Linked DNA regions of Homo sapiens: all the other regions are linked to region 1. Evidence: fine-mapped expression QTL. A gene starts in region 1. Each other region holds a variant in brackets. All regions are shown on one strand. Distances are from middle to middle.

Region 1 (11,019 bases):
GGAATGCTCATTTGCAGAGATAAGTCTCACTGGACAGGCAGGGCAAACTACATGTTCAGGGGACAGGTGACTTGTCTAGGGACACATAATGAGTCAAGGGTACAGCTGGCACTAGAACACAGATCTTGTGCTTCCTTGCAGCTTTTCTCCATAAAAAGAGGTTCCTCATCACTTTGCTCACAGGGGCTGGCTCCTCCCGGCCCATCTTGCTGCAGAGGAGAGGTGGGAGAAGGACCTGAACTGCTGCCAGCCACTGTCCCGGGGCCAAAAACCACACTGAGGTCATCTGGGATAGCTCAGGCTCTGCCGGCTCCAATGAGGGAAGGCCCTGCACAGGATGGGGGAAAAAGGAAGAAACACCTTCACCTCCCACTTCCCACCACTGCTTCCCAGAAGGTGCCCTGCAAGTTGCGGCTGCCCCTCTGCCTGGTACTAAGGGACCTTGTAAGATTAAGAAACAGTTCTGTAAAATGGAGGTACTTGGATGGGAAATATGACTTTCATTTTTTGAGAAATAAATGTAGAAAGATCTCAATGGAGAAGTGGGAGGAGGGGCCCAGGTAGAGAACCACCCTCGGAAGGAAAAGTTTCCTAAGGGTGTTTGGCAAGAAGTACTCAGAGTGACCCTAGTGGTGAGGAGGGAGAAATGGAGGCCCAGACCTGGGGTCAGAGGGCTTGGCTTTTAGTCCTTTACCCACTGCACACATGGAAAATTCCTGAGTCTCAGCAGGAGCCCCTCCAAGGTAGGTAAAGGAGCAACATAAGTGATTTTCATCTGTGTTCAAATAGGGAGCTTAAAGGCAAGCAAACTGTACCCTGAAGCCTCAGCTGGCATTAATCCCTGATCACTGGCCCCTAACAAGCAGATAGCCTCTGCATGGGATCAGCTGTCTCAGGTTTAAGTAGTAAAATCCCCTGAGTCTTCACTTTCTCCAGCTCGGCTCAATGCCTGCTCTCAATCCCCCATGATTTGGCTCATTACCTGCACTTCTAGGCCTGCTTTGTCCGCACCTTCCAGCCCATTAGGCACTTCCCCCGAAGGTCCTATTACCCTCCCTAAAGTTTAAAATGAACTGATACTTGGGAGCTGCTCTGAAGGCAACCAGGGAACCAGCTGCTCTTGTTTACCCATGTGGACAGAGAATGCTAAGAACAACAACAACAAAAAACTGCATCCACTGGGACCTCCCAAGAGCCCTCCAGCAACGCACCTCTCGCCTCTGTCCAGAATACACTTAAGCACACCTGCTACAACCAGGGCTTCTCATTTTCTGGAGTACAAAACTAAACCACACTTCCTATCTCAAATTACCACACTGGCAAAAGTAGGAACATTCTGTCCTGCCTGTTAAAAAACAAAACCACCTGCCACTGCCACCTGATTAATTTCAGAGACAATGTAACCCATCTCTTGATAGACAATGGAAAACTGTTTCAATCCTGAAATTCTCTTCCACCTTCTTTAAGCCAGGTTCAACTCCTTTTCTTAAACTTAAACTCATTTTCCTTTCATAAACTTGCTTAGATAAAATGAAGACTTGAGGCTGGGCGCAGTGGCTTATGCCTGTAATCCTCACTTTGGGAGGCCAAGTTGGGTGGATCGCCTGAACCCAGGAGTTTGAGACCAGCCTTGGCAACATGGTGAAACACTATCTCTACTAAAAATATAAAAATTAGCCAGTCTCATAACCCGGTCTCAAAATAAATAAATAAATGTATTTTAAAAAAAAGATTTACAAAAAAAATGAGGACTTGATAACTTCCCTCGTGTAAATGGAAAAACTCAAGCCTGGAGAAATTAAGAGCTTTGCCCATGGTCCCACAATAGACAGTCAAGGTCAGGGTTCTGACCAGTCTCCTGATCTCATGACTGCCCATTCAGTCCCAGCTGCCAGCTCCTGTGCCTCATGTCAGCACTTGACAAAGGTTCCCTCACGGTAAACACAACTTGCTCTCCATTCTAATCCTGAAGGATGGTCTAGGAGAGCAATGGTTCCCAGCCTTTTCAGGACCCAGGACGTCTTCTTTTATTGGCTCTAAAGAGGCCTAATATTTAGAAATATGCTGCCCATAAAGCATGTTTCATTAGTGACATTTTATCTTTATTCATCAGAAGTCAGAACTGCTGATTATCTCCTGCCAGTTGACAGGCATGAAATAACCAAGTTCGTATAACTACGGTCAAACACTAAGAAAGCTGATGTTTCAGTTAACCACTATGGCTATAGTTGATGCTGCCCAATTTCCATCAAATATCTTAAAATATTGAAAACAGCTTACAATATAGAACTTCTTAGGAGAGCAAATTAGTAATACTGATGAACATTTCCAATGTGTCTATCTTTTCTATTATTTCTGTAGGAAAAGTTGCTGTCACAAATGTGCAAAGGTGTACGTGTAAGAATGGTCACTGCAGCACTCTTTGTGATGATGAAAAACTGGAAACAATTTAAATACCTATCCGTGGAAAGCTGGCATATCCATACAATGCAGAATGAGGTAAATCTGCATTTATCAACATTAAAAGGATGTCCACAAGACAGTAACTTATTTAAAAAAATAAAAAAGGAAATGGCAGCTGAACAGAATATGAACAATATGAACCTACCTTTATTAATAGGATATACCAGAATAAGATGTCTAAAAGAATCAAATTTGGAAGAAACAGGAGTCTTTTACTTTTCGCTTTCTAAATCCTTTCTGTAGTTTGAATTTTTTATGAACATACATTGCTTTTGTATTTAGGGAAAGGTACATGGAAGAATTTGTCTGTTCCAGAACTACTCAAAAAAAAAAATTAAAAAGAAAAAAAAAAAGCATGTAGATTTCTCCATTTCTGCTTTTTTTTTTTCCCCCTGAGATGGAGTCTCACTTTGTCACCCAGGCTGTAGTGCAGTGGCGCGATCTCGGCTCACTGCAAGCTCCGCCTCCCGGGTTCAAGCCATTCTCCTGCCTCAGCTTCCCGAGTAGCTGGGACTACAGGCGCCCGCCACCATGCCCGGCTAGTTTTTTTTTTTTTTTTTTTTTTTTTTGTAGTTTTTTTGTATTTTTAGTAGAGACGGGGTTTCACCATGTTAGCCAGGATGGTCTTGATCTCCTGACCTCATGATCCACCCTCCTCGGCCTCCCAAAGTGCTGGGATTACAGGCGTGAGCCACCACACCCGGCCCTCCATTTCTGCTTTCATAAGCCCTGAAACCAGTCCTCTGAGCACCGTAAAGGCACCTCGGCCAGTAGCCCCTCTTCGCCCCATCCCTGGAGCAGTTGAAGTCCCAGTAATGCTCCTTCGGAGGTTTTGGCTCCCTAAAGTCATTCTTCAGCCCTGAAATCCTCAAGCCCAGTCACTTCCCGGAGTCAAAGTTAGCCAACACAGGTGTAATGAGCAGCAAGGGAACAACGGTTAAGCTATTAATAAAGCAGCCGCTGATGTGAACACTAAGCTGCCAGGTGAACCAGCTCCAAAGTACAGCTCTATAGCAGAGGAAAAGGAAGTAAGTTAACACATATACTCATAACTTTATTTTCTCCTTTGACTATGTCTGCAACAGTCTCACAGCCCGACTGTGACGTGAGGAGAGAATAGGGTAAATAAATCACAGTGGCTTTAGGACACCTTCTTCTTCTTAGAGAAGAAAAAGGCATTTAGAGAAACTAGAGTATGGAAAAAAAGAGATTAGAGCCCAGAGCAGGAATTAGAGTCTAGAAGACAGGAAAGAAACCAGGGATTACTGCTTCCCTGACTTGAAAGCCCTCAAGGCAAAGGAACTACAGAAGAGTTAGGAAAGCAGGTAGAAGAGATTCCTACCATGGAGAAAAAAGCAAAGCTAGAAGGACTGACACATGGCATCGTGTAGTCAGAGACTCCCACAATTATCGATCCTGCCCCCCAGCCCCAGCTCTCTTTTGGATCAAGCACCCTAGTAACATTAGTGTACCTCCCTGTAAGAGGTGCATCCTAGATCCCCAAATCTGGGTTACAATATTGTCAAATAAGAGAAGAAAACATTTTTTACTGAAAAAATAATTATTCACAGCCCTCTTTTAAATAGTGAGCTTCCAATACAGCATTTGAGTATGATTCAATATAAACATTTCAGGAATAAATACAACAGGCAGATTGAGTCACCTGTGAAAAATAACACACATTAGATATATGCCCAACACTCTTCTAAGCGCCTTCCTACATTTAGTCATTTAATCCTCACATCACTCTTGGGGGAGACACTGTTAGTATTCCCACTTTTAAAAGGAGTAAACTGAGGCATGGAGAGAACAAGCAACTTGTTCAAGAGCTAAGAAGTCATAAACCCGGGATTCAAACTCAGGCAGTCTGACTCCAGAGGCTATACTCAAACATCATGCTATACTAGTTATCTCTCATGGGGTATTCTGCCCTTAGCACCTGGCTTCTTGCCCTGGCAGAGAAAAGAGACCCTAATTGTAGACCCTAACTCTGCCAACCCCAGTATCACATCCAGCCAGCTGCTTCTGTCCAGCAGGCTCCATGGGTGCTAGGTGAAGAGAGATTATCATTGTCAATCATGAAACTGACAAGGGCATGACATCAAGGTCGAGGCTCTGGGAAAAGCTTTGAACATGAGATAATTCCTGGTCTCATGCTGGTCGGCTGTTTCCACCTGCTGAGATATATATATTCCTTGACTAACTGGCTATATATATATATATATATATAACCACTGAAGTGAGAAGAACTGACTGACAGGATTCTGCAGGAATGGTGCCATCCAGAAGCAGAGGCAAGAGTTAGCATTCCTTGAAGTTCCCCAAAATATGTGGGGAACAGAGTCCCAGATCTTTTGGGAAGCTATGCAGCCTATGATGCTTAGAAATACAGATGCTTGGGGACAGGAAATGATGCTTCATCTCCTCGCAAACCCTCCTGCTGTTTCTATCTAAAAGACAGGCATAGAAATGAAAATGCTCATGTGAAAGCTGTCCTCAAAAAAATGAACCTATAGGGAAAATAGTTTACAAAGTACAAAGGCTAAACCTGTGAGAAAGTAAGATGCCCAAGACACTGTGAGAAGCCAAGTGTCAGGGCTCATTCCCCTCAGGCCTGTAGGAAGGAAACCAAGCAGCACTGGCTCCCATCTGCAATTTCTACAATGAGCAGCACTCTCCCAAAACTTAGCCCAACAGATAAAGCTGGTAACATTACCAGCTCCAAGTAATTCCTGCACCTGCAACTGTGCCTTACTCATTGTGTGTACAATAATGTTAGTTCTAACTTCCATCAGCAAGCCAGTGTGCAAACATCCCAGGAGACAGAGATTCAGTTTAAGAAAGCAGTAAGAAACTGCTGGACTACACCAGTAGTCAAGCCCCAAGAACAGACATTTCACTAAGTCTACTTGTTTTAGACAGGACATTCTACCCTGGAGACTTTGCATTAAATTTCCATGTCAAATAATTATTTATCACTCCCACCAAGCAGCAGAGTCCAGGATTATAACTATATTCCCAAGATAAAATGCTGAGAGAGAGCAGTCCCTCCTCTCTGCCAGAACTCACAACATTTCTTCTCTGACATTCGAAGATTTGGGGTTTTGGTTTCATAGCTGTTGTTGTTCTGTTCTGAGGAAGATGCCCCAGACATGGCAGCTCTTCAGATGTCTGAAACAGAGAAGTAGAATGTAAAAAAGGGAAGGGGAAGAAAGAAGACATAACTTAAAAAAAGTCAGTGCATTGGATCCGTGTGGTATAAGTAAAAACACCCTGGGCCAAGAGGCAGGTTCAGTCCTGTTTCTCCCAGTTAGCAGCTACTTCTCTAGCCCTCTGTTTCCTCACCTATAAAAAGAGTTGCACTAGAACCTTACATTTATCTTCTGACTTACGAGTCTACATTTACAGACGTTATCTTCTTCAGTCCTAACAATAATCTTGTAATTAGGCAGATTTTGCCACCATTATTTCTTCTCATTTTACAGATTGAAAATTTGAGATTCATCGAATTAAGTGTCCTGCTCAAGGTTTCATGACCTCAGATTCTAGTTTTAAGAATCTGGGCAGAGTAGTGGCAGCAGTTGGGGTGGGGTGGGTTATGTATAGACGAAGTACATTACCAGGAAATTAACTCCAATCTAACGGTAGGACTCAGTTTTGCAAACAGTGAGGCCGGGCACGGTGGCTCACTCCTGGAATTCCAACACTTGGGGAGGCTGAGGCGGGCGGATCAAGAGGTCAAGAGATAGAGACCATCCTGGCCAACATGGTGAAACCTCGTCTCTACTAAAAATACAAAAATTAGCCGGGCCTGGTGGTGCGCGCCTGTAGTCCCAGCTACTCGGGAGGCTGAGGCAGGAGAATCGCTTGAACCCGGGAGGCGGAGGTTGCAGTGAGCCAAGATCCCGCCACTGCACTCCAGCCTAGCGACAGAGCGAGACTCTGTCAAAAAAAAAAAAAAAAAAAATGAAAAATGAAAAAGAAAGAAAGAAAAGAAAAAAGTGAGGGACGTGGGAAAATCTCGAACATATTCCCTGAAGGAAAAACAGTAACTGGACCCCAAGACAGCCCTAGCACGTCGTCATTTCTCCTCTAGTGCATTCTCAAGCCCTGCTCCGCACCCTCTCCCTAGTTACCCCCGGGACTCAGTCTAAAGAACGCCGGAGCGCTGAGGTGGTAAATGACTTCCCCAAGGTCACCTCAGGAAGAGGGGTAAGCCCTGATTCAAACTGGAGTGGGAAAGTCCTGAGCTCATGCCCCCAATTCAGACAACAGGGGGCTGGTGAGGACGGAAGATCCTGCGCCTTCAAGAGCCTTACACGATTCCTTTACTGACCACACAAATCCTCCAACCCAAACACAGACTGTGGCTCCCGGTCCCAGAACGTCCGCGCTGCCTGCCATGCCTGGGGACCAGCACCTCTCCCCGCACTTCATCCGGGGGCACGCAGCCCCCACATCCCGCCCCGCTAGACCCTACCCGGGGCTGCGCAGCTGTGGCTCACCCTACGATCTCTCCTAAGATCCCTCCCTGCCTTGGCCCCGGCGCCTGCCCTGTAACGCGACCGAACCGAGCCGACAGCTTGTGGCCGGGACCGGCGCTACAGTCGCCGGCAAATCATGTGAGCCCGTCTGGCCCCGCCCCCTCGCGCGTAGGTCCTCACCTGGAGAGAATCATCCACCAATCGGGCGCCTGCAGGACCCAGGGGGCGGGGCAGGGTCGCAATCGCCTAACTGGCTCGGGAAGGCGGCTGGAAGTCGGAACCAGAGAGATCACAAGCTCCTGAGTTTCCCAGCGCCGAGGAGCCTGGTGGCACTGTTGCTTGGTAACTAATAGGGCTGGGGGCGGTGTTAATAAAAAGCTTGACTTTTTTCTGACTCTCGCGAGAGTAGACTATTCGGTAGGCGTCTTGAGAGCGGGTGTGCCGGGTGACGAGAAAATGCTGCAAAGATTAACGCTCTCATTCCTGAATCCCAGCAGAACCTCATTAGATCCATAAATGGGAACGTAAGCTTTAAAGATGTTTTTGCTAGAATAAACTACCACAACACTTGAGCTAATTATGCCTTAGGGTGTATACATACCCGGCTCCACAGGTCAGACGCTGTGACCTAAGAAAATCAACCACTCTCATCGTTGAACCAGAAGCTTCCCTGGACCCACCCATACACCCCATTGGAGTTTTTTTTGTTTTGGTTTGGTTTGGTTTTTGTTTTTTGAGATGGAGTTTTGCTCTTGTTGCCCAGGCTGGAGTGCAATGGCACGACCTTGGCACCGCAACTTTTGCCTCCCGTGTTCAAGCGATTCTCCTGCCTCCCAGTATCTAGAATTAAAGGCATGGACCACCACGCCCAGCTAATTTTGTATTTTTAGTAGAGACGGGGTTTCTCCATATTGATGAGGCTGGTCTCGAACTTCTGACCTCGGGTGATTCACCCGCCTCGGCCTCCCAAAGTGCTGGGATTACAGGTGTGAGCCACTGCGCCCGGCCACCCCGGTGGACTTCTAACCACTCCTACCTTCCCTCCTACCTACCCCCTAACCCAGGCTGTATCATCCGTTGCAGTCGTCTTGAAGAACCAAGGAGGAAAATTGCACCAGCAAAAAAAAATTGAGTCATGAAAGATGTGAAAAGATGGAAACATTACATATAATTTATTCAGAAGCAAAGTCTTTTACAGTGGAGGTGAGTTTGCACCAAGTGAACTACACTTTTCATAGTTGCCCCAGCGGGCCCGTTTGATGCTTGATAAACCCACTCTTGGCAAGTGGGACTTGCTGTCTGAATCCCGGCTGGATAAAGAACAATGAGTATGGATTTCTTGGAAAAGAGAGATATAAATTCAGGGATGTCTTTATTCCTCCTTCGCCTGGGAATTAAACTAATTCTTCCAAAAGTTCAAACAGTTATCTCCTCTTTAAGGCTTTTTACAACTCCCAGAGTGCTCTAGTTGCCCTCTCTATGTCTATACAACTCTGTCTTTATTCATTCAGCCAGTATTTGTTGAACACTTTTTATTTGCGAGGCACAGTCCTGGGTTCTAGGCATACACGTTTGAAAAGGTACAGATAATCTAGCATTATCACGTTGCTTTGAAATTCAGTGGCTGTGTGTCTCACACCCCACCCTGTCTCCCAACTGCAATGAATACTTGTTACAATGAAGGCAGGAATGAAGTCTTCATATTTGTATGCCCAGGAACTGAACTGGAATCTGATGACACGCGTTACACGACTCCTCCTTACACTGCCACCACCTGAATGAGGCAGCTGCCCTGGGCCCAGATGCTGACCTCATACTGTGCTTTCTGAAGTGGCAAATAGACGTTTTCAAGCACAGTCCCAGGGAGGCAGAAAGGCCAGTCTTTTGGCCCCTGGAACCCCAATGAGTCAATGTTTAATGCAGCCACGAGTCTAGTCACAAGTGTGATTGTTTTTGACTGGTCCTTTGACTCACTGACCATTCCTGGCATTCGTTTGCGTTGTGAACTATGATTCTGTTTCTCCTGGTGTAGTCTGGGTGTAGTGTGGAAGCCCCAATTTAATAATTTCCGACCTCACTAAGTGCAAGGTCACATTCCAATCTCCAGACCTTCATTCAGGAACTCCTTCCCCCGCCCTCTTTTCTTGAGCATATATGCTACCCACGCGGAGGGCACCTCACTCGCTCTATAGGTAGCAAGACCCGTTGTCCTTTAGGAATACGGAGGTTTACATCTTCGTTCTGAGGGTGGGGGAAAAATCAGTTGTCACTTTAAAAGAGTTCGCGCTTGCTAAGGTACTAAGGCAGAAGCCGCACCGAAGCGTCGCGATAACTGCAACCACCCGCAACTTCTCGCGATGTTTGGCCCCGCTAAAGGTCGCCATTTTGGAGTCCACCCGGCGCCTGGTTTCCCCGGCGGCGTCTCCCAACAGGCTGCCGGGACCAAAGCTGGCCCCGCGGGTGCCTGGCCTGTGGGCAGCCGGACCGACACGATGTGGCGGCTCCGCTGCAAGGCCAAGGACGGCACCCATGTTTTGCAGGGGCTGTCCAGCCGGACCCGGGTGCGGGAACTCCAGGGCCAAATTGCCGCCATCACCGGGATCGCCCCCGGCGGTCAGCGAATCCTCGTCGGATACCCTCCCGAGTGCCTGGATCTCAGCAATGGGGATACCATTCTGGAAGACTTGCCCATCCAATCTGGTAAGGAATCAGGGCTGGGGCCAGGGAAAGTCCCGGGAGGATGGAGAGGGGCGTGAGAGAGAACAAAACACCAGTCAAGGCAAGGTGGCTGTGAGTCGGCGGGGGGGCTTTGAGGCCAGGGGCGAGGATAGATCAAAGAACAGAGAATGCTGACGGGGGCCAGGGCAAGTGTCTAGCAACTCCTTGTCTTGACACAGGGTTGAAAGGGAACCCAAAGCCTTGAAGACCCCCTTCCCCATTCCGCTTTCTGGTCGGCTTTGAAACTATCCCATTTTGTTTTCCCTCGGCGTCCACAAAAATATAAAGTAGGGCCTATTTTCTCTGTCCTTATGTCTCTTTTTCCCTATATCACCGATGAGATCTCAAGGGTGCAGGATTTTTTTTTTCTTGATTCATTTTTGCAGTCCCCTTCGTAGATACTTCGTTTGACAGGCATACTCATTTTCGAGTTAGCTTTTAAAACACCCACTGAAAGCTCTTTCAATTTCTAACCAGCAGCAGTTATTTCTGTGCCATATCAAAACTTGAACATCAGTGTTTATAATTAAAAGCTTTCAGTTGCTGTATCAAGGATGTTGTAAACACTCTAGAGTAGATAAGTTTCCGGAGAAGGAGAACCCCCTAGCGGCCTACTCTGTAGTGAGCACCTTCTGTAAAATACTGTATAAGGAAAGGAAATTTTGTTTTTGAAATGTATCTTTTTAGGTAAGCTTGAAGTTGTTTACTCCAGACCCCTTCACTAAATTGGGATGCAACCTCAAGTGTTTTTTGTTCTTTTTTCATCTTTATGAAAATTCAGTGAACAAAGATTCTTACTGGTAACTTACTTGCAAAACTGTATTCTCCTTAGTAACCCCAGTTTATGCTTTAACTCCTTCAGTTTGTAATTTACAGACTTGGCTAGAGAACACTCGGTTTCTTCTGTAATTTCTTTGCAGATCGGGATTTGTTTTATTTTTAACAGGTGACATGCTGATCATTGAAGAAGACCAAACCAGGCCCAGAAGTTCACCTGCATTTACTAAACGTGGTGCTTCTAGTTACGTCAGGGAAACTTTGCCTGTGCTTACCAGAACCGTGGTCCCAGCAGACAACTCTTGCCTCTTTACTAGTGTGTACTATGTCGTCGAAGGAGGAGTCTTGAATCCAGCTTGTGCCCCTGAGATGAGACGCCTCATAGCACAAATTGTAGCAAGCGATCCAGACTTCTATAGTGAGGCAATACTGGGAAAAACAAATCAAGAGTACTGTGACTGGATCAAAAGGGATGACACTTGGGGAGGAGCAATAGAGATATCGATTTTGTCCAAGTTTTACCAATGTGAAATATGTGTAGTGGATACACAGACAGTAAGAATTGATCGTTTTGGGG
Region 2 (11,019 bases), 24 kb before region 1:
TACTAAGGCAGGTTGCTACTTCTTCAATAGCTATTGAACCCTTCTTTGGTAACTAAACCCTAATTATAACTGGCACAAAGCCACTTGGAATAAAAATATTCCAGCCTGCATGAAAGCTGTATGTAGCCACTTGACTACATTTTGACCAATGAGGTATAAGCATAAGTGTGCTTGCAAAATCTAGGAAATATTCTTTTTTTAATTTTTAACTTTACAGTAGGTGTATATATTTATGGGTTACATGAGAAGGGAAATATCCTTAAAAGAAGCTGGTATGTCCTGTTGCCTTCTTCCTTCCTGCTGGCCAGAGTGTAAACATGTTTTCTGCAACTGGAGTAGCCACCTTCCTCTATGAAGTAGAATCCAACACATTGTTCTTTTTGAGCGAGAGAGACAGAGAAAGAGAGAGAGAGCGAGTCTCACTCTGTCATCCAGGCTGGAGTTCAGTAGCATGATCATAGCTCACTGCAGCATCAAACTCCCAGGCTCAATCAATTCTCCCACTTCAGCCTCCCGAGTAGGTAGGACTACAAGTGTGCACCACCATTCCTGTCTGATTTATTTTTTATTTTTGTAGAGATGGGTGGGGGGGGGGTCTCACTATATTGCCCAAGCTGGTTTTGAACTCCTAGCCTCAGGCAATCCTCCCGCTTCAGCCTCCCAAAGAGCTGAGATTACCAGCCTGAACCAATGTGACCTTGGAGTTGTTATTTTAGATTTACTGAAATCCACAGCTGAAACCAACTCTAATCTGAAACAGAGTTTGAGTGAAATGACTCAGGAATTTAAATTCAGAAAAGAATATTTAACAGACTTTATTAAAGCATACTCTGACACAGTTTCCCTTCCCATCCATAAATTCTACAAAGACAATGGGGGAAAGAGGAGAGAACCTAGGAAGTGAAAACTGAATGGCAATGAAGAGGCAAACATATCAGTGATGAAGGAAACCCAAATGGATAAACAAGTTATTCTCTGAAAGTAGGCTGGATGTTTGGTGAAGGGCATTAAACATGTTGAGAGTAGACCCCATGCTACAGTGCTGCTTCCCAAGCGTTCCTATGCTTCTGAAATTATTTTGCTTAATTGCAGGGAAACTCTCCTATAGAATCTAATCTGATTTTCACAGGTAGAGTGTTGCATACAATCAAAAAGGCATTTAAATGCCTTTGGGAATTCAGAAGCGTAGTTGTTCTGCTTGTAAAGGGCTGAAGGAATGCAGCTGACATTGGCTTGATGAGAATAAAAGAAGAAAGACTGTGCTTTGATGTTTTTAAGAGAAAGAAAATATTACTCTCCATGATTACAGTGATGCTATCTCATTAAAAACCACGTTCTTAAATATCCCAGTGTGCAGTAAAAAAATTCCAGTACATCATATATTCCCCTCCTCCGCTTAAATAGTATCAAATGCATGTCACTGGATTATTTTTTCTTTTACATGTTAAAGGAGAGAAATGGACAAGAGAGTATGGACAGTATTACGTAGCTCCTGTTTCCTACCCTGAGGTCCAAGAATGGGTTTCAGGTCATGACCTCCCTAAACTGTATGCAAAACCTATGTGTCAACCTTTTTCTGGGTAGAGAGTCCTTAGCATGTCAAATTCTCAAATGAGTTCAAGAGAATGAATGAAGGTTGGATGGTGCAAAATACTTCTAGAGACCATAAACCTTGGTGATGGGCCATTGTCAGACGCCACAGGAAGTGCCCATGGGCTCATCACCTCCTGCCGAGTTCAAAACCAGCTTGGGCAACATAGTGAGACCCTATTTCTACAAAAATGAAAAATAAATAGCCAGGGCAAGCTAGTGAACCTGAAGGTTGATGCTCCTCACAGTGAGTCCTAAGTGAAGACCCTGGAGAAGTTTAAGAAATGGTGTAATGATGAAACCTACAGGAGAAAGGCAAATAATGACCATCACCCAACACTGAAGTACTCGCTGAGTAATCATTTTCTAATGCTGGTATCTTTGCTAAGTTACCAGCAACATTTTAAAACAGTGTGGCATGTGTCTGTTGGGTCTTAACATTTACCTTGTTCTGAGATATTATTGGCTTTATAAAAATCACGAGTGTTGAGGTGTGTGACTCAGTAATGGTGCTCATTTACCTCTCTGTAAAACCCAGAGAATGATTCCAGACACCCCAGCCTTTTACAAATGATGACTTGATGGCTGAATTAGAGAACACTTGCAGAAGTGCCTGGAGATATTTCCAAGGAAATTAAACCTTGACACCACATCCTCATTACTGTCAGCCCACCAGCTAGATTATTAAAGCTCAATGTATTCATCAGTACACATAACCACTGTCTCTCACCTGTTTTCAAATTGGAGAATTCATAAGTCATTTTCATTCTATCAGAAGAACCCTTGAACTTAAAGAATTTGGAAATCCTCTGTTGTTATTATGAATGTTTCATTTTATCTCTATTGCTGCTGACCCCAAAAGATTGTTCCAAGTTACTTTATCATATACATTATGTAACCATTATCCAACATTATTTGGTGAAGGTCATTCATGAGGGGGAAAGCATCCCCAGTAGAAAGAGATGCGTTAGGTTACAAACCTGCTGTTAACCTTTCCTTTCCAATAATAAACTCTAAACAAAGGTCAGGGACTTTGTTTTAGTCATTGCCTGGCAACTAATGGGTAGTCACTAAATATTTGTTAAATAAATAAATGAAACTCTAGGACGTCAGTAATGCATGGTAGTCACAATCTTACTGATATCATTTTGAAATGCTGATGAAACTTGAACTGGTTAAAATCACTAGTTGGAAATATACATATAATCTAATAATTTGAAAATCATCTTAAAGAAGCTAGTTTCAAACACATTTTAGACAATGTTATTAATATTTTGCATACATATAATGTACCAAATGTTATCTTTTCGTGTGTTATCTTAAAAATTAATTGCATTTTTAATTAAAAATAATTTTATTTTATGTTCTTATTACAAAAGCAATACATATTACTCGCATATTTTAGCATGATTTTATTAATCCAGGAGATAAACACTTCTCCAGAGAAATGCATCTCTTGGTTTACACTTACAATAAAAATCAATGAGAAACAAAGTATTCAAAAAAAATTCACTGTCCCTTAACATCGTTATTTTCCTTTTACAGAAGACAGATATCTACGTTCTGGAAATTTAACTTAAGTTAATATGACATTAGACTTAAAAGCTCTAACTACCTAAATTTCTACAAAAAAAACCCCAAACAAACAAACAAAAAAAAACCTGACAACATAAATTATATTACATTCTGATTAAATACATGCAAACAGTGACAAGAAAACTCAAAAATGCCTTACATGGATAGAATAAATAACTAAATATAAACATTGTCTGATCATCAAAAGACAGTTTTCGATGCAGAGAGAAATCCATATCACAACTAAATCATTATAGTACAGCATGCGGTAGGCAGCCAGATGAAAATCATCTGCTACAGGGTAAGGAGCCTTCCTGAAGGCAGCTTTGTACGTAGAAAAGCAGCTCCTAGTTGCTGGATGCTGAACCGCCTGCAGCCCAGCTTATCACATCTTAGGTAACAGAGTCCTGTATCATCCACAGTATAAAAGAACCATTTGAGAAAAGCTACATATCATTACTTTTCTTGCTACTCACCCTTTTGCCCAGCAAGTGAGCATTTGAGTGAAAAGGAAAAGAAAGAAAAGTAAAGCTAAAAACATACTATTCTTTAAAAAATAGACTTTCCTTGCAAGATATAATATCCTGTGGGGATTCCATACTCTCCTTCAGTAACAGTGACATGTCAAAACCACATTTACAGAGATACATTCATACATTTGACAATCACTGGGGAAGAGTTATCTGATTTGTCTGTAAGGAAAAGCGAATGACTAATGCACTGAGGCGCTGGTCCATGACCCCGCCACCCTCACTTTTATATGAGAGATCAGTGACCACAATAGTGACCAGTGGCCAAGAGGCAGGTATCAGGAGACTACTGCCCTCCAAGTCACAGCCACAGCTCTCTCAAGGACTGTATCATGGTGACAGAGCCCACAGAGGGGCGTGTCTCCTTCCACCTGTTCTGAAGCCAAAACACTCCCTGATCGGGCTGATTCTCAAGGAGCTTTCTTGACTTACTCACGTGATATAAATGGCACTCTACTTTTCTGTCTAGTCCACATTCCCAACCACCCAGGAGAACCACATCAGCCCCATCTTGATGCATGAGAGGCACATGCATCAAGTCAAAAGTACAGTAGCTACAAAAGGGAACTTAGAAGATGGGTACCCATTTTGGGGAGTCTTGCAGTCAGATCCTGTCCTGAAGGGCCTGGAACAAGAAAAACTTCTCTAAATGAAAAGGTTGCCACTGACACTGTTCTTCTATCAAGGCAGAGAAGATGTTTTAGGGACTGAATTTCTCAGAAGACCCTCCATTCACCTGGTGATTTGTCTCTTGCTTCCAATGTGGCAAATGGTAACTGCTAGCATAAGTATATTAGACTCTAGCCTGCTCGCCTGGAACAGTGGCAGAGACCAGCTCTTACCTTCTCACTTGAAAAGTAAATCTGAAGAAGTGCATTTGCACTTTGGGCAAAAAAGAGCCAGCAAAGGATGCAGACAGTCACAGGTAGGATGTTAAATGCCTATACAGAATGAGATTGACCAACTTGGACCAAACTCAGCACAGAGATGACAAAAAGTCACTGGTTCAGGTTGCTAAATGTTTTGAGGCACAGGGAAGTTAAATTTTTCAGTGTAACTGATATTCCCATTAGGCAGGAGGGGAGGAAATATGGTGACGTTTCTCCAGGCCTCGTTTTGGTGGCCCCCAAAGTCCAGTTCCCACTTAACTTCCTGTTCTAGCCTCTGTGAAGCTGACATCCCAAGCTTTTCAGTAGATCCCAGTCGTTTGGAGAGGTGAGGCCTGAACATCCACATCATTAGCAAGGCAACATGAGGGACGCTGCGGAGGGGCGTCTGCGCACAGCCAGTGTGGTCTCTGCTGCCTACGAGCCAGAGAGGAAGAGACACAAAGCTATTACAGCACTGCCAAGCAGCGAACATAAAAGTAGAACAGAATCCTTCCCCTACCTTCCCTCCTCCCTCAACCTCCCCATCCCCACATCCATACACATGCATGAACACACTGGTGTGCCTACACACACACCTTGACTACCCGAATGGCGTAGTCATGGTCTTCTTTCCCTGAGGAGCTGACCTCGTGACCATATTGGACCAGGCACTCCTTTCAGACCTGGACCATAAGCTACATACCCAAGATATGAAGCAGGAGCAGTCAGGATCCCTCTGGTAGAAGGAAATCGTGTAGGCTATGTCAGCCAAAAGACCATGCCAATAAAGTGACACTGTAGTCAGGGGCTACTTGGCTTCTGAGGAGGGTCCCTACTATTTTAGTTATACGAGTCCATTCTGAAACCAGTCATCAGAGCAGATCAACTTCTTCCCATTAACTGGCATCTAACATTTTACCTTGTGGGAAATTTTTCCCCTAGAACAGTGCTTCTCAAATGTTAAATGTGCATATGAATCACCTGGTCGTCCTAGTAAAATGAGGATTCTGACTCCGGAGGTCTGGGATGGGGCCTGGGATTCTGCATTTCTAATGAGCTTCTGGTCTTTGTTAAGGTAACAAGGAATAAGGCATGCGAATGGTAAAACAATCCCATCTGTATTTCCTGTCTCAAAAAAAATTAAATGCTGTTTTATACCCTTGACCATAATCTCTTTAGAAATGGGCAAATCACATTTTAGGAACAACAGTCCAC[C/T]AAGTGCTAAAAAATCTCCAAAAGTTTTCTTTATAATACATAATATGAGTTACATGTTGCTAATGGGAATTACTGCACAGTGCAGTGAAATGTAATTGTTTCTTAATTCTTGCATAAGTGCCAACAGGAACACACAACTATTGAAGTTCATGTGCTTTCCATAATGTTCTTCCTATCTTCCCCAGAAGGTGGCAGAAGAGAGCCACGGCTACACCATGGTCTTCAATTACAGTGCGAACTTCTGTTGGCTTGTCTGAGTCTGAATCCTTGTGCAGCATGAGGCAAAGTTTTAGGGGTGGGGAAGGGATGGGAAACACAACTGAAAATACTAAACAAAAAACCCAGAAGCCTTCTGATAGGTTCAAGTTACTCAACAATTTTATTTACCCATTCTACACACACGCACACAAAAACACATTTCAAATACAGTTATGCACACTTTAAATGGATCTGAGTGGCATACTTTGTTATCAGTGTCACCCGATTAAATCAGAATGTTGCTAAAGACTTATGTTCCTATTTCAACAGAGCAGTGCCTAGGAAATCTACAGTAGAACTCTCTTCCTAGGCTTCCCAATCTGACCCATTCCCATTCAACCCAGAGGTGCTCAGCCCCACACCATCCCCCTTCCCAAAGGGCACCATGTATGATCAGCCCTTTGATTTTGCCATAGCAAAACCATCACCATACCAGCATAAGTTGATCTTCTTGTTAGGTCAATATAATAAAAAACGTACATAAGCAATTCAGATACAAAAACATTGCGTAGGTAAACATTGGTCACAGATATCCAGTGAAAGGCTTACTGGAAAAAATACTTTTGCCAACCCTTAAAATCAATTTTTAAATGCCAAATTTTCTTCTCATTTTTACTTACTAGATTAAGTGTAAAATCCAAATGCATGGCTGACTAAAAATAGCAGCCCTGTCCAATGGAATACAACATTTCAGAACAGGGTAAGCTGGGGACACAGAAGCTTCAGAAATGAACAGTGGAACTGAAGTCCTGCCCTAAAGCAGGGGACTGGATGAGATGACTTCAAGTAAAGGTAACAACTCCAGGCTCTGAACAGGCATTCCCTTAGCTGAGTTCACAAAATACCATAAAAGTGATGCATAACCTTTATCTTGTACAAAATAATGAGAATTTGGCCACTACTATATAAGAAATATCTATTTAAAATCATAGTGTACAGAACTCCCCTATAAAGAAAACACGTGGAGTGCTTAATTCCTTCCTTTGTTAGACACATTTAATAGACAGAGAATTACCATAATGTACATACACTTCAATGGATACAATCAGAAAGCAGGCAGACTGTCAGCTTACAGACCCTAGACCGTTAGTCAGGCAACACCCAAATTTTACTATAGTCTATCTATCAGTCAGCACACAGACACTACTACAGTCTGTCAGTGACAAACAGATCCTACTAGAGTCAATCAGCACACAGATCCTCCTGGTCTACCAGTTGGTCAACATATAGACACTACTAGAGTCTGTCAGTCAGCACACAGACACTAAAGTCTGTCTGTCAGTCAGTCAGCACAGAGATCCAACTAGAGACAGTCTCCTGGACAGTATGGGTCTAAATTAAATCCCTGGACACAATTCTGACATCTGTGTCACCTTCAGGGAAAGTCGATTCTACCCCACCAGTGCTGCAACCCGACTCAGTTGTTACATATTTTCAATAAGTCAAAATACATAGAAAAGCTGGGTAAATCTATCAAATTTCTTAACAATGAACACAACATGGCTTCTGGGCTTGGCAAAGACAATGGAATGTGCATAAGATTACATAACCCAGATACAATTCTTCTGATTACTGGATACTTTTTCCCGTGCCCATTGGCCACTCCAACCACCAATGAGTTTCTGTCAATTAAGATCTCCTGCTCATAAAAAAAAAAAAAAAAGAAAAAAAAAGTAACATAGATGAATTTATTTCCAAACAGCTATATCATATGTTTCTTCAAAATGCCAGTGTCTCTGAAGACCAAATGTGGGTTGCAAAGAGGATTACCCAGATCCTCATATGGAATACTCACCCATTCAGTCTAGGGGTACAAATATATTGTGTCCTTAACTCCAACTTCTTTGGAAACAAACAAACAATAACAACAACAACGAAACACCAGAGGCAAAGATATAGGGCAGATCCCTAGCACAATGCAAGTTTTTAGAAGCTTTTCTTATTCTACTTTAAAACTCAATGTAAAAATCATCCCTTTACCAAAACAAAACAACAATACAGATAAGAGCTAAATTACAATTTAGGGATTAGGAGATAAGAAGAGAAGCAGGTTCTCTAAATCTGCTTTAGAATTCTCTTTCAAATCTGTCATAGTCTTGAAGCAAGAATAAGAAAACAGAATAATTTCCCTTTCCCCACTTTAGACAAGTAAATTTATAAAAAACTTTTTTAGAGGTGAGGTCTCACTATATTGCCCAGGCTGGTCTCAAGTGATTCTCCTGCCTCAGCCTCCCAAGTATCTGGGACTACAGGTATAAGCCACAGCAACCAGCTTATTCCAGTAGATTAAATGCTAATGTCTTTACCTATTTCTCACAAAACAAAACTTACAGCCTCAGCAGAGAGTACTTTTAAGTCCATTTTTATTTTGTAGGACTTGTGATAGACACAGTCATAGTAATGTATACAGATTACCAACATGCATTCAAGTAAGACCAGGAGAGAAAAGATGAGAAGTAGAGCTGAAACTTCTCTAAAATTTGGAGTAAGAGCTCTTTTCCATTCTACATTCTCCTGGCTTCTTCCTGCTAGACTTCTCTGAAGGGATCTTGCTTTAGAAACTAAAGGATGCTGAAGCCCTTGCTTGCCAAATTCCAATTTCTCATGTCCTATCTGAGGATAAGACCACCTCAGCTCCTCTTCTGGAGAAAGCGAACTAGCACAGGTGAGAGTGGGGAAATAACAGCAGGCTGAGAGCCAGAATGAACATCCCAGTGACCTGTCTCTAATGCTGGGTTAATGACAGGTTAACACAATGCTAGCTTGTTAGAGAAGTCCCCTTTTGCTAAGAGTGGGTACAGTGTTAATCCAAAGTCTGTGGATCAAAGTGCTCCCTCTTCTCATTCATTAGGTCTGAATTACTCTTACCTCACAGCAGAAGAAAAGACTGAATGCCCATTTGGGCTACAGATGCCACCATCCAAGCAAATGTGGACAATGCAACCTTGTAAAAGTGCCAAACACGCCTCCCCAACCATATCTCATTCTCACACTGGTGGTGGTGGGGGCATCCCCATCCCCCAACCCCTGTAGTCTCATAGCCATAGGACAACAGAAAAGTCAGGAGAAGCGATGTGATGGTTGAACACTTCTAGACTCAGACTGTTGCTATATTGCAAATGTCCATTTGTTATAAATTACATGTCCTGTCTCTTAAAATAACCTTCCTCTGGACAAGGACCTTTTCTTCTACTTCTGTTTAGCTTTCCCCTATCCCTGCCCCTACCAGCCCAAAGCTCCACAAAGACACTAAGTACATGTTATGTAACCACTAAACAGGAATAGCAGGTTACTTAACATCTTGGACACAATTTTGAGAAGAATCTAGGTAAGCAGCCTTTAGAAGCTGCCTATGGTATCCTACTTGGGACATACGAGTAAAGGACCCGGGGTCAGGAGTCAGTTGCCAGTGATGACAACCTTTATCATCCTGGCAGGGTCTGCACCTCTCTCCAGGGTGCTTAAAATCCCCAGCTGCTCTCTAGAGACAATTATTTAATTCAGTGATTTGTTCCACATCACTCAGCAATGTAAAGGGTTAAAGATGGGACTAGAACCTAGAATAACCCTCTAAAACACAGCAGCCTGCCTTCCAGGGGGTTATATCATTTAACATTATGATCTGCTCAAACATCAAACCCAAAGAACTGTCCTTTCAGGACTATGAGGAATTCAGAATTCCTAGGCTGACACTTTTGTCTGAGAAACTACTATCCAGTATTTTTCCACCTAACTTCCTAAGGTGGAGTTCTTAACCCGAGCTATGAATCAGAATCATCCGGGAAGCTACTTAAATACATGCATGTCCAGACCCAGATCCCAGAGATTCTGAGTCAGTATTAAGCATAAGGTGGACACAGGCATGTTTATGATTCAACAATCCTAAAGGCAATTCTAAGGAATACTCCTGGATGAGAACCACAGCAAAAAGTCTTCCATTACCAAATGAAAACACCCTTGGAAAATAGCTAACTCCTTCTCACTGGTTACCTCTAAAAGACCAGCAGATAACTTTAAGGTGGGGAGTCACCTATCTCTTTTTAAAATCCCATGAGAACCCTAAACTTGCCTCTCAGAAAAACATACATATATTCGTACATTTTGCATGCAAAATTGGGAAAGAGAATAAGCCATCATGGTCATCAAGGGGCTAAGAATTTCTTCCCTAAACATTTTCTGTTTAACCCTACAAAGAAAATGAAATGACAGAAGTGAATAGAGAAATACAAACAGTTACGAGCTAGATCCCACAGGGTTCCAAGGACTTCTCTGGACATCAAGATGAGATAGTTTCTCTTTATGAACAAAAGAATACTCCAATGAGAGAGATTAAATTCATCATCAAGCTTTTCCACATTTGGGAAAAAAATGGTCATGTAAAAACTATTTTGTTTTGATGTTTCTTTCTTCTTAAGGACAGTGTGCTGAAATTATTCAAAAATAAGCAGTTTTAGTGAACTCTTCTCTGCCTCTTGCCTTGAGCAACTCAAACATCAGTGGTGACTCCTGAATCTAACTGCCCTTCTAAACAGCCCCAGAGGATACTGGCTTTGGCAGGAAAAGTTGCTGTGATTGGCAAAGAACCTGAGAGTCATGGGAGAAAAGACATGACTGCTCTCTAAGAGCCCTGCAAGAGCTAGAGCCCACCCTACTCTCCTAAACCCCACTCTGCAGACCTCAAAAGACCCAGGCCTGACTCTAAATTAAAAATAAAAACCAAGACATTTCCCACATGCTCAGAGCCAGATTCTCCCAGGGCATCGAAGACTTAGAACTGTTTCTCATGAAAGGAGGCAAGAACTCTCACCCTATGTCTACTTGCAAGCTCCAGAATATTCTGTGGATGTCCTGTAGTCTGGGCTGGCCCTTACAGGACCTGGCTGGAGAGGAAGGGAGAAAGGAAAGGAAAGACTCCTCCAGTCCAGATCCATTTAGACCCACTGCAGAAAGCATTAACTGGGCCAGACTTGTCTCTTGTCAAT
Region 3 (11,019 bases), 130 kb after region 1:
TGGTGTAATCCCAGCTATTTGGGTGGCTGAGGCATGAGAATTGCTTGAACCCAAGAGGCAGGGGTTGCAGTGAACTGAGATCGTGCCACCACACTCTAGCCTAGGCAACAGAGCTAGATTCCATTTCAAAAAAAAAAAAAAGACAAGTCCCATAGTTGCCACTTCAACCCAGATTGAAGTCTCTTCTATATCTGGAAATATTCTTCTCTGTATAGAAGAATAATATGCATACATCACTGTCATATGCAATATGTTCATCCCCCTTCCCCCTGCCAAAGCTCGCCCTCGAAAGAGGGCCAGATACCTTCATTTACAAGGTCTGATCAGGAAAATTAGGAAACATCTAGTAAATTTGCATTTCAAGTCCCCTTTTAAAATTTCACATGAAATGTTTTAGCCCTAATAAGGGTATTTGTAGTCCCTCAAGAAATCCTATTGGGTCTGGACCCTGCGGATGGGACTCACTGAGGGGCCCATCGCCAGGCTACCTCCAGGGGGCAGCACTATCATACCCAGCTGGGCAGTCAGGAAGCCTGGGGCAGCGTCTCAGAGCCTTGAAAATCTCCCGGGCATAAGTGATGGGTCAGCCTTTATGCACAGCTGGTCTATGACACGAAGCCTTGAAGGTCCCCACTATACTTTTGGTAGTAATGGGGCAGAGATCATCTGTGACAGCTGAAGAAGGCCATCACAGCTGTTTCTAATGTCATCCTGGGTCCTACCCCAACAGCCTTGAGATCGAACCCTGACCCTGTGATTCCTCATGAAGTCTCCCCCAGACTCCTTCACCTCGAGGAGTAAGAGCATAGAGAAAAATCACAACCCAGGCCCACTCTTCCCTGCTGCAGGGTCCCGCGATGTCAGCCTAGCGAAGGCAGACGCTGCTCCTGATGAGAAGGTGCTAGACTCTGGTTTTCGGGAGATTGAGAACAAAGCCATTCAGGATCCCAGGCTTTTTGCAGAGGAAAAGGCGGTGGCAGATACAAGAGATCAAGCCGATGGGAGCAGAGCATCTGTGGATTCCGGCAGGTAAGGAAGGATTCAAGGCTCCCCACTCGGAGAACACCCCAGAGCCGAGCACCTGAGGCTGGGCCACCAGGTCCAAGGAGGAAAGCCCATCTGTCTCTTGAGCACTGGGGCAGCCCTTACTACCTCTGCTTATATGTGGGAGGGTCCTATGGTACCCTCTGCCCTTCTCCCATGGCTGGGGAGGTGTTTACAATTCAGTTCAATCTTCCAGGCCTAGGATGCAACAAGGCCCAGTGCGTGCCTTTGCCAGTCTGGGAAGGCTTCTTAGAAGAACAGAGCTAGGGAGCTGCATCAGCAGGGTGGGGTGGATAAACCTGGGAGGAAAAAGGACTAAGCCAACCTTGCCAGCACATCGTCGGGCCCCCAGATCTCCCTTCCAGGGATGAACTAACTTAAGCCTTCTTCCAGCTCTGAGGAACAAGGTGGAAGCTCCAGAGCGCTGGTCTCCACCCTGGTGCCCCTGGGCCTGGTGCTGGCAGTGGGAGCCGTGGCTGTGGGGGTGGCCAGAGCCCGGCACAGGAAGAACGTCGGTGAGTCCCTGGGATACTCCCTGCCTCCCACCTCCAACCCGAGCCCTCAGTCCTGAATCATCCACCCATAGAGGAAGCTGCTGTGTCTCTTCTTTTTCATGAGCTAAAACAAAGGATCCCGAGAAAGCAGGATGGGGAAAGATAAACCCACACATACTCGAAACTGAAATTCAGAGCTGCTGTCCAAATACTAACACTGGAAAATCATCTCCAATTACCCAGGATCTAGGTTCAGAGACAGGGCTGCCAGGAAGAGGAGATTGGGTTTCAGGAGACCCTGGGCTTGGACTAATTGGATAACTAATGAGCTGTGTGACATTGAGCCATCCTTATGCCATGCCTCAGTTTCCTCATGGCTCAAGTCAAGGATGATAATCAGGACCTCACGGGGCTGATGTGAGGACCAAAGGAGATGCTGTGCATTGAAAGGTCCCAGAGTGACAAAGATCAGGGATTACCAAGTCCTGATTACCCAGGAAAAGGGACTGGGGAGGAGACTCGGATCATTTCCATCCCCCTGGGTCATAGTCAGAGCTGCACCACCTCAGCTGTCCTGCAGGGCTACAGTGGATCCGCCCAGAGAGAAGCAGCCCAGCCTGGCCTTCTAGGTCCCAGCCCCTGTCCTTACACCAACTCCTCTTCCTCCCGGACAGACCGAGTTTCAATCAGAAGCTACAGGACAGACATTAGCATGTCAGACTTCGAGAACTCCAGGGAATTTGGAGCCAATGACAACATGGGAGCCTCTTCGATCACTCAGGAGACATCCCTCGGAGGAAAAGAAGGTATGACCCTCACTCAAGGGAATGCTCAGCCCCTGGGGAGAGTAAGAATTGGTCTCACATCTGGGTTGGGAAAAGGAGGCTAGTAAGGGCTAACCTACCCTCTTTCTTCACACAGAGTTTGTTGCCACCACTGAGAGCACCACAGAGACCAAAGAACCCAAGAAGGCAAAAAGGGTGAGGAGGAAGAAGGAAGCCCCACTACATGACAAAGAAATGCAGCATGAGGGGATGCAGTTAGACTTCAGAAAGAACTACCTCAACATGGGGGCCGATCCCAGAATAGGGAGGATGATATAAATAGTCCTCAGGAGTCCTCAGGACTTTTTGAGGAAGAACTATATCTTACTGGTTGTGGGATGCTGATGTGGATAAGGCCCAGGAAGGAGGTGAGCTATATGATTAGGCTGTAAAACTGCAGGAGAGAGGCAGGCCAGGAGATGAGGAAAGCAGGTGCATAAAAGATGGGAAGCTACAATGCCAAATGCTGGTGATTAAATGGATGCTCTTCCTGGGTTGGGGGACCCAAGGACCTCAGGCCACACATCCTCCCTTGAGGGTTTGCTCAGGACCAGCTTTTTGCCTGGGCCTAGGAGACATTTGCTTGCGGTGGGCAGTTTGAGGCTAGAAGCCCCTGCTCACTTCTCTTGAAGCCCCACCAGAGGCAACTCCTGCCTTGGGTGCCATATACCATCCCCTCAATCTGCCCTAGGACTCAGGGGACCAAGAAAAATAACATCTCATGCCTTTAATCCCGAGGTGAGAGTTTTTGTTGTTGTTGTTGTTGTTTTTATCATATCTACTTTTTCTTGAAACATCTCTGGCATTTAGCAAAGTTAGAACGAGTTATTCCTGGGACAGCCTTCCCCTTTAACTTTGTGGTGCCAAAAAGCTACCTGTCTGGGCTGGTGGAGAAAGAAAAACATACACCACCGTGGTTGACCCCAGCCTAGGCCACCTTGCCCGTGGACTGTGTGGGCAGCTTCCGGGGACAGGCCCGGGCAACAGAGGCGGTTCCACTCCGTGTGTCAGAAGGAGGTAGTGAGACAGAAGAAGATATTTTTAGAGGCTGCAACTTTCCATTTCTCAAAATGCGTCCTTCTTGGTGAGCATGGGGGCTGGGATGAGAACAGTGGGCCCCAAAGGCTTGTGTTGCTTGGACCAAGATCACGAATTCAGGACATTAAGCACCTCCCCTCCCCTGACTCCACCCACTGAGCCAGTGCCCCCAACACTGATGCCTCTCCTCTTGCCCCTTAGTCATCCAAGGAGGAAGCCGAGATGGCCTACAAAGACTTCCTGCTCCAGTCCAGCACCGTGGCCGCCGAGGCCCAGGACGGCCCCCAGGAAGCCTAGACGGTGTCGCCGCCTGCTCCCTGCACCCATGACAATCACCTTCAGAATCATGTCGATCCTGGGGCCCTCAGCTCCTGGGGACCCCACTCCCTGCTCTAACACCTGCCTAGGTTTTTCCTACTGTCCTCAGAGGCGTGCTGGTCCCCTCCTCAGTGACATCAAAGCCTGGCCTAATTGTTCCTATTGGGGATGAGGGTGGCATGAGGAGGTCCCACTTGCAACTTCTTTCTGTTGAGAGAACCTCAGGTACGGAGAAGAATAGAGGTCCTCATGGGTCCCTTGAAGGAAGAGGGACCAGGGTGGGAGAGCTGATTGCAGAAAGGAGAGACGTGCAGCGCCCCTCTGCACCCTTATCATGGGATGTCAACAGAATTTTTCCCTCCACTCCATCCCTCCCTCCCGTCCTTCCCCTCTTCTTCTTTCCTTCCATCAAAAGATGTATTTGAATTCATACTAGAATTCAGGTGCTTTGCTAGATGCTGTGACAGGTATGCCACCAACACTGCTCACAGCCTTTCTGAGGACACCAGTGAAAGAAGCCACAGCTCTTCTTGGCGTATTTATACTCACTGAGTCTTAACTTTTCACCAGGGGTGCTCACCTCTGCCCCTATTGGGAGAGGTCATAAAATGTCTCGAGTCCTAAGGCCTTAGGGGTCATGTATGATGAGCATACACACAGGTAATTATAAACCCACATTCTTACCATTTCACACATAAGAAAATTGAGGTTTGGAAGAGTGAAGCGTTTTTCTTTTTCTTTTTTTTTTTTGAGACGGAGTCTCTCACTGTCGCCCAGGCTGGAGTGCAGTGGCGCAATCTCGGCTCACTGCAACCTCCGCCTCCCAGGTTGACACCATTCTCCTGCCTCACCCTCCCAAGTAGCTGGGACTACAGGCGCCTGCCAGCACGCCTGGCTAATTTTTTGTATTTTTAGTAGAGACAGGGTTTCACCGTGTTAGCCAGGATGGTCTCGATCTCCTGACCTCGTGATCCGCCTGCCTCTGCCTCCCAAAGTGCTGGGATTACAGGCGTGAGCCACCGCGTCCGGCCTCTTTTTTTCTTTTCTTTTTTTTGAGACAAAGTCTCACTGTGTCACCCAGACTGGAATGCAGTGACACAATCTCGGCTCACTGAAACCTCTGCCTTCCAGGTTCAAGCTATTCTCATGCCTCAGCCTCTCAAGTAGCTGGGACTACAGATGTGGGCCACCATGTCTGGCTAATTTTTTTTTTTTTTTTTTTTTTTTGTAGAGACAGGGTTTCGCCATGTTGACGAGACTGGTCTCGAACTCCTGGCCTCAAGTGATCTGCCGCCTCAGCTTCTCAAAGTACTGGGATTATATAGGCATGAGCCACTGAGCCTGGCCCTGA[A/G]GCGTTTTTCTCAAAGGCCCTCAGTGAGATAAATTAGATTTGGCATCTCCTGTCCTGGGCCAGGGATCTCTCTACAAGAGCCCCTGCCCCTCTGTTGGAGGCACAGTTTTAGAATAAGGAGGAGGAGGGAGAAGAGAAAATGTAAAGGAGGGAGATCTTTCCCAGGCCGCACCATTTCTGTCACTCACATGGACCCAAGATAAAAGAATGGCCAAACCCTCACAACCCCTGATGTTTGAAGAGTTCCAAGTTGAAGGGAAACAAAGAAGTGTTTGATGGTGCCAGAGAGGGGCTGCTCTCCAGAAAGCTAAAATTTAATTTCTTTTTTCCTCTGAGTTCTGTACTTCAACCAGCCTACAAGCTGGCACTTGCTAACAAATCAGAAATATGACAATTAATGATTAAAGACTGTGATTGCCACCAACGAGGCTCAGACTGTATTTGCACCCAATACCTTCTGTCTCCCAGACAGCCTCTTCAGAGCTTTTCTTTTCTTTTTCTTTTCCTTTTTTTTTTTTAAGACAGGGCACTCTGTTGCCCAGGCTGGAGTGCAGTGGTGCAATCATGGCTCACTGCAGCCTCAACCTCCTGGTTTCAAGTGATCCTTCCACCTCAGCCTCCAGAGTAGCTTGGACTACAGGCGTCCACCACCACACTGGCTAACTTTTTGTATTTTTTTGTAGAGACAGAATTTCGCCATGTTGCCTATGCAGGTGTTGAATTCCTGGGCTCAACTGATCCTCCCACCTCTGCCTCCCAGAGTGCTGGGATCACAGATGTGAGCCACTGCATCTGGCTGCCTTTTGCTTTGGTCCCAATTTTAGGCACCCTGGGACCCCCTTGTCTGTTAAGATCATTCCTAGGTTCTGGTGCTGAACCATGTCATATCCTCTAAGGGCTGCCCAAGCTGTCTGTTGGCAGCTAGCCCCCCATCTCACCCCTAGACTCTTCCACAGGGCTTCTGTGTGTGGAGAGTTCTCTCTGCAAGAGAGTTCTCCCCAGTCTGCCATCCTGCCTGATGTGAACCTTTGCTTCCACCCAGGCCTTAAACATAATGCTGTGGATGCTATGAGCTTCCCAAGCCTACCTTTTCCTGGGACTCAGACTTCAGGCCTCCTTTGGTGTTCCCTCCAGCCCCACTAACTGCAGTACTCCAGTCTCAGTTCCCAGGCCCTGACCTGGGTCAGAGTCTTGGGCTTCTATCCAGCCAGAAGAGGGGGCATCAGAAATGTTTTTTTCTTTCTTCTGTGATGGGGATGCATACCTTCTGGAATGACAGCAAATCGTTCCAGGAGGATCAAAATGACAGGTGTGTCAGAAACTACCACTGTCTTACCCTTCCAGGAAGCTGTTCTCTGACTCACCAAAGGGCCATGTTTATGGTAGAGGATTAAGATGCAACTTCTGTACGCATTGCAATAACCAGCGAGCCAGTCCTGAACTCGTGTAGCCTATCCCAGCCCTTTGAAGCAAAGGTCAAGAAATGTCACTAAAGCCAAAAGCGATCTTATATTATTCCTAAGTGATATTGTCAGTAAGGCTCAAAGTCCATCTGCTCCCCGTGTAGCACAAGAAACCCTTTTAAATAAGGAAGCTAGTTCATAGGTTCCAGTGGACGTGAGTTTGGAGAGGATATGATTCAGCTTAGTATAGGGGAGTGACCATAAACTGCAGGATTGATGATGATAAACCAATTAGCAACGGTCAGTGGCCCCGAGCATTCAAGGAACTGTTTAAACATTTGATGACAAGGAAATCTTTCCCAAGTTCTTGAATTATCTTAATGTTTATTCTTTTTTAAAAGTCCAATATGTAAAGACAGGACTATTATTAAGGCCCAACAGGACTATTATGAAGGCCCAACTATTATTAATGCTCAACCACTGCTGGGCATTATTAAGGCCAAACAGTGGTTAGGAATTTTTTTTTTTTTTTTTTTTTTTTTTTTTTTTTTTTTTTTTTGGTAGAGACAGGGTCTTGTTTGTTGCCCAGGCTGGTCTGGAACTCCTGGCCTCAAGCAATCCTTCTGCCTCTGCCTCCCAAAGCATGGGGACGACAGGCGTGAGCCACTGCACCCAGCCAGGAACTTGTTTATAGCAATTGATTTTGTTTTGTAAAGCTAAAAAATAGATCTCTGATTTAGACTTTTCCAAAACTCAAGACAGAACATCTCTCCTAAGAACATTAAACAGCAGCGAGAGGAACTGACTGTGCTATGGTCTATGAAACCGGTCCCCCAGGCAGAGAAACAAGTAGAGTTTCCCACCCCATCCCTCCCAGCTTTCCTAAAATAATTATCTCTACTAAGGAGTCTGCGCAACAAAAATAAGAGATCATCTCAAAAAGGCTACATGTCTAAGTGGACAGTGGACATGCTGAGAGGCAAGCTGTGAGACTGAGACCAAAGGTCCCAGCAGGCTGTGGAGCAAGGCAGGCATGGAGAGAGGATCATCGGTATAGGAGCCAAGCAGCTCTGGAGTGTCTCTTCCAAGGCTGATTCTTAAAAGGGCAGCCAAGCCACTCTCCCTAGAGCCAAAAATCTTTGTCCTAGATACAGGGACATGAATATCCTAAAATCCAGGTTGTTGCTGTTATGTCACATTGAAGTTGATCCAAAAGTCCTGCATATTTGGAGTTTTAACCTCAGAACTCCAATAGGAATATGGCCATAGTCAGGAAAGAAATCTTAGTCATCAAAATCCTACCATTTATTATCTTTAAAAAAGTCACATGGCTGGGTGCGGTGGCTCACACCTGTAATCCCAGCACTTTGGGAAGCCGAGGCGGGCAGATCACAAGGTCAGGAGATCGAGACCATCCTGGCCAACATGGTGAAACCCCGTCTCTACTAAAAATACAAAAATTAGCTGGGCGTGGTGGTGGGCGCCTGTAATCCCAGCTACTTGGGAGGCTGAGGCAGGAGAATTGCCTGAACGCAGGAGGCGGAGGTTGCAGTGAGCCGAGATCGCGCCACTGCACTCCAGCTTGGGGACAAAGTGAGACTCTGCCAAAAAAAAAAAAAAAGTCACAAATGGGCTTATTGTTGTAAAGGTAAATGCTCCAAGGCCCTGCTGCTGTGGAGTGGCTTGCTCTGGGACAGGCAAGCCTGGGGTCCTGCGGTGCTTGGAAGGACGGGACAACAGGGTCCCTGAGTCAGGTACCTCTACCTGGGGAGGGGGCTTGTTCTTGGTGAGTCCACCAGACAAGGAGATTCTTGTGGTCTGTCATTGCAGAGAACAGTGTTGGGTCATGGAGAGGACCACCTGAGGATGGAGGCCCTCAGTTTGGGAAGGCCCAGAAAATGGCCCTTGTAACCCGGCCATGCGGAGGTCAAAGCAGAGAAAAGCAATAACCAAGCAGAACCCATGACAACAAGCTCCACCCAGTGGCGGTGGCTCATCTCCACTGCACTCTGACCACATCGCAGGCTGTGTGCTGAGTCCCTTGTAACACTTGCCTCATGTGATCCTCACAACTGCCTTACGAGAAACGTTCTTCTTAGCCCATCTGTAACATAGGGAGGATGGCAGAGCCTAAGCTAAAAGGTCATCATACAGAGCGAATGAACACACCTCAAGGACTTCACTTTCCATTGGATCTGGCATTATTTATTCCCTCCACCCGCTGTCGGGGGGCTGTGAATGTTTTCCATCAGGTTCACCCCTTCTGGACCCTAGAGGGTGTTGGGCCATTGGCTCCCTTGCCCCATGGTGTGCTCCAGCCTGGCAGACACTCCCCTGGGAGTAAGAGTGCCAGGGCACCATGGTAGCCCTGTGAGTCAGAAAGGAGAAATCGAGCTTAGACGAGAAAAAAAGAAAGAAGAAAATAAGGATGTAAGAATTGTAAAGTTCACAATTTCACCAGCAGTCAGTCTTCCCTTGGGCCCCAACCCCCATGACCCAGGGGCAACAGCTAAAGGTAAATGGAACAAGCCCAGTTCTGGGGATTTTGATCCCCTCAAACTCCCGACATTCGCCGCCTGCCCAGCCGTCCTCACACCCCTAACTCTTAAGTCTTGTAACCTAATGGGATGTTTTCAGGGTTTCACTTGGGCCACACGTGATGCAAAAAGCTCTCCTGCCCACTCCCATCCCACACACCTTCCGCCCTGCCCGGCAGGCCCCAGCCTCAGCCCAGCCAAACCCTGATCTTCACAGACATGCACACACACTCACACTCCACAGAGCACACACACAACCACACACCACACACACACACTCAACCACACACCACACACTCATAACCACACACCACACACTCACACACTCTACAGAGCACACACACACTCATGGACGCACACCACACACACACAACCACACACCACACACACACTCAACCACACACACACTAGACAGAGCATAGAGTGCGCACACACACACTCATAGCCACACACCACGCAGTGACACACACTCATAACTACATACCACACACAACACATAGCACACACACATAGCCACACACCACACATTCACACACACTCATAGCCACACACCACACATTCACACACTCCACAGAGCACACACACACTCATGGACACACATCACACACACAATCACACACACATAACCACACACCACACACACTAGACAGAGCACACACACTCATAGCCACACACCACACACACACTCCACAGAGCACACACACACTCATAGCCACACACCACACACACACTCCACAGTGCACACACACACTCATAGCCACACGCCACACACTCACACACTCTACAGAGCACACACACACTCATGGACACACACCACACACACAATCACACACACATAACCACACACCACACACACTAGACAGAGAACACACACACTCATAACCACACACCACACACTCACACACTCAACCACTCACACACTAGACACAGCATAGAGTGTGCACACACACACTCATAGCCACACACCACGCAGTGACACACACTCATAACTACATACCACACACAACACATAGCACACACACATAGCCGCACACCACACATTCACACACACACATACATCACACAGCCACGCATCCTACATTCACACACATACCACACAGCACATACACACTCATAGCCACACATCATACATTCACACAGACACATTACACATAACACACTCACACTCTCATAGCCACACACTACATGTTCACACTCACTACACACACTCACACTGTAGCCACACACCACACACACACCACACACGTATCACACAACATACATTGCACCCTTACACACACCTCAGACACACACCACACATACTTCACACGCTCAAACATCAGAGTCATACAACACACATCATACACTCACACATTCATTCATACATATATTCATACTCACACACTCTTGCCCCCACACACATCACGTTCATTCACTCATATTCCCCTTCTCTGTCTCTCCAAGACAGCCCCAGGCCTCAAGCCCAGTGCATGGTGGAGCCCAGCTGTGTGACAGCTCTGGGGCATTGGGAAGAGCCCGCTAAGTAGGGAAGGGTGGGGCTAATCCCAGCTGGGAGCTCTGGCACTAAGGAGAGGCCCGAGGCTGCCCTCTGCCATCTTGGCCCATTTCAGGGCTGGAGGACATCACAACCACAGCTGCTCCGGGCCAGGGGAGATTCAGATAGGGATGGGGCAGGGCAGGCTGCCCACCCCCCCACACACTTCCTCTGCACCTGCTCTGAGCCTCACATTCAACTTCCACCACGGATGTTGTTGTTTTAGAGAACATGTGACAAATCTGCTGTGTGGGGGCGAGCAGGGAGTGGCTGACACAACCACTGTGGAGCCCGGGTCTGTCAGGCACATCCCCCCAGAAACAGTGTGAGTATAGCCCGGATCCTCCAGGGGCACAAGAGGTCCTTTCACCTGGGGTTGGGGCCCTGAGAACTGACCTCCAGGGATGAAACTTCCAGGAACAGAGCCCTGAGAATGCCCTCATAAGTAATACCCCTGCGCAGCTCACAGTGAAGGC

What was found. PIP is the estimated chance that this variant, and not a neighbour inherited with it, causes the effect.
Region 2: its variant is fine-mapped to the expression of PFKFB2 in whole blood (TOPMed, PIP above 0.99).
Region 3: its variant is fine-mapped to the expression of PFKFB2 in whole blood (TOPMed, PIP 0.96).

What each region holds. Positions count from the first base shown.
Region 1 is chr1:207,049,316-207,060,334 of GRCh38, reverse strand. PFKFB2 (6-phosphofructo-2-kinase/fructose-2,6-biphosphatase 2) reads right to left here and starts at 7,060. Exons shown (of 15, transcript NM_006212.2): 1 at 6,969-7,060; 2 at 5,533-5,634. The coding sequence starts at 5,617. YOD1 (YOD1 deubiquitinase) reads left to right here and starts at 9,127. Exons shown (of 2, transcript NM_018566.4): 1 at 9,127-9,647; 2 at 10,612-11,019. The coding sequence starts at 9,305. RefSeq lists enhancers at 7,130-7,769, 8,993-9,563.
Region 2 is chr1:207,072,934-207,083,952 of GRCh38, reverse strand. It overlaps PFKFB2 (6-phosphofructo-2-kinase/fructose-2,6-biphosphatase 2), which reads right to left. Exons shown (of 15, transcript NM_006212.2): 15 at 6,136-11,019. Among named protein-coding and RNA genes, the nearest start is that of C4BPB, 10 kb to the left of the region's middle. The variant C/T (reference allele first, on the strand shown) is at 5,780.
Region 3 is chr1:206,922,996-206,934,014 of GRCh38, reverse strand. PIGR (polymeric immunoglobulin receptor) reads left to right here. Exons shown (of 11, transcript NM_002644.4): 7 at 849-1,029; 8 at 1,438-1,559; 9 at 2,213-2,344; 10 at 2,460-2,518; 11 at 3,602-5,493. The coding sequence ends at 3,697. It also overlaps a transcript of FCMR not described here. Among named protein-coding and RNA genes, the nearest start is that of FCMR, 6.6 kb to the right of the region's middle. RefSeq lists enhancers at 2,984-3,553, 3,177-3,677, 3,604-3,893, 4,364-4,413, 8,531-8,980 and 1 more. The variant A/G (reference allele first, on the strand shown) is at 5,070.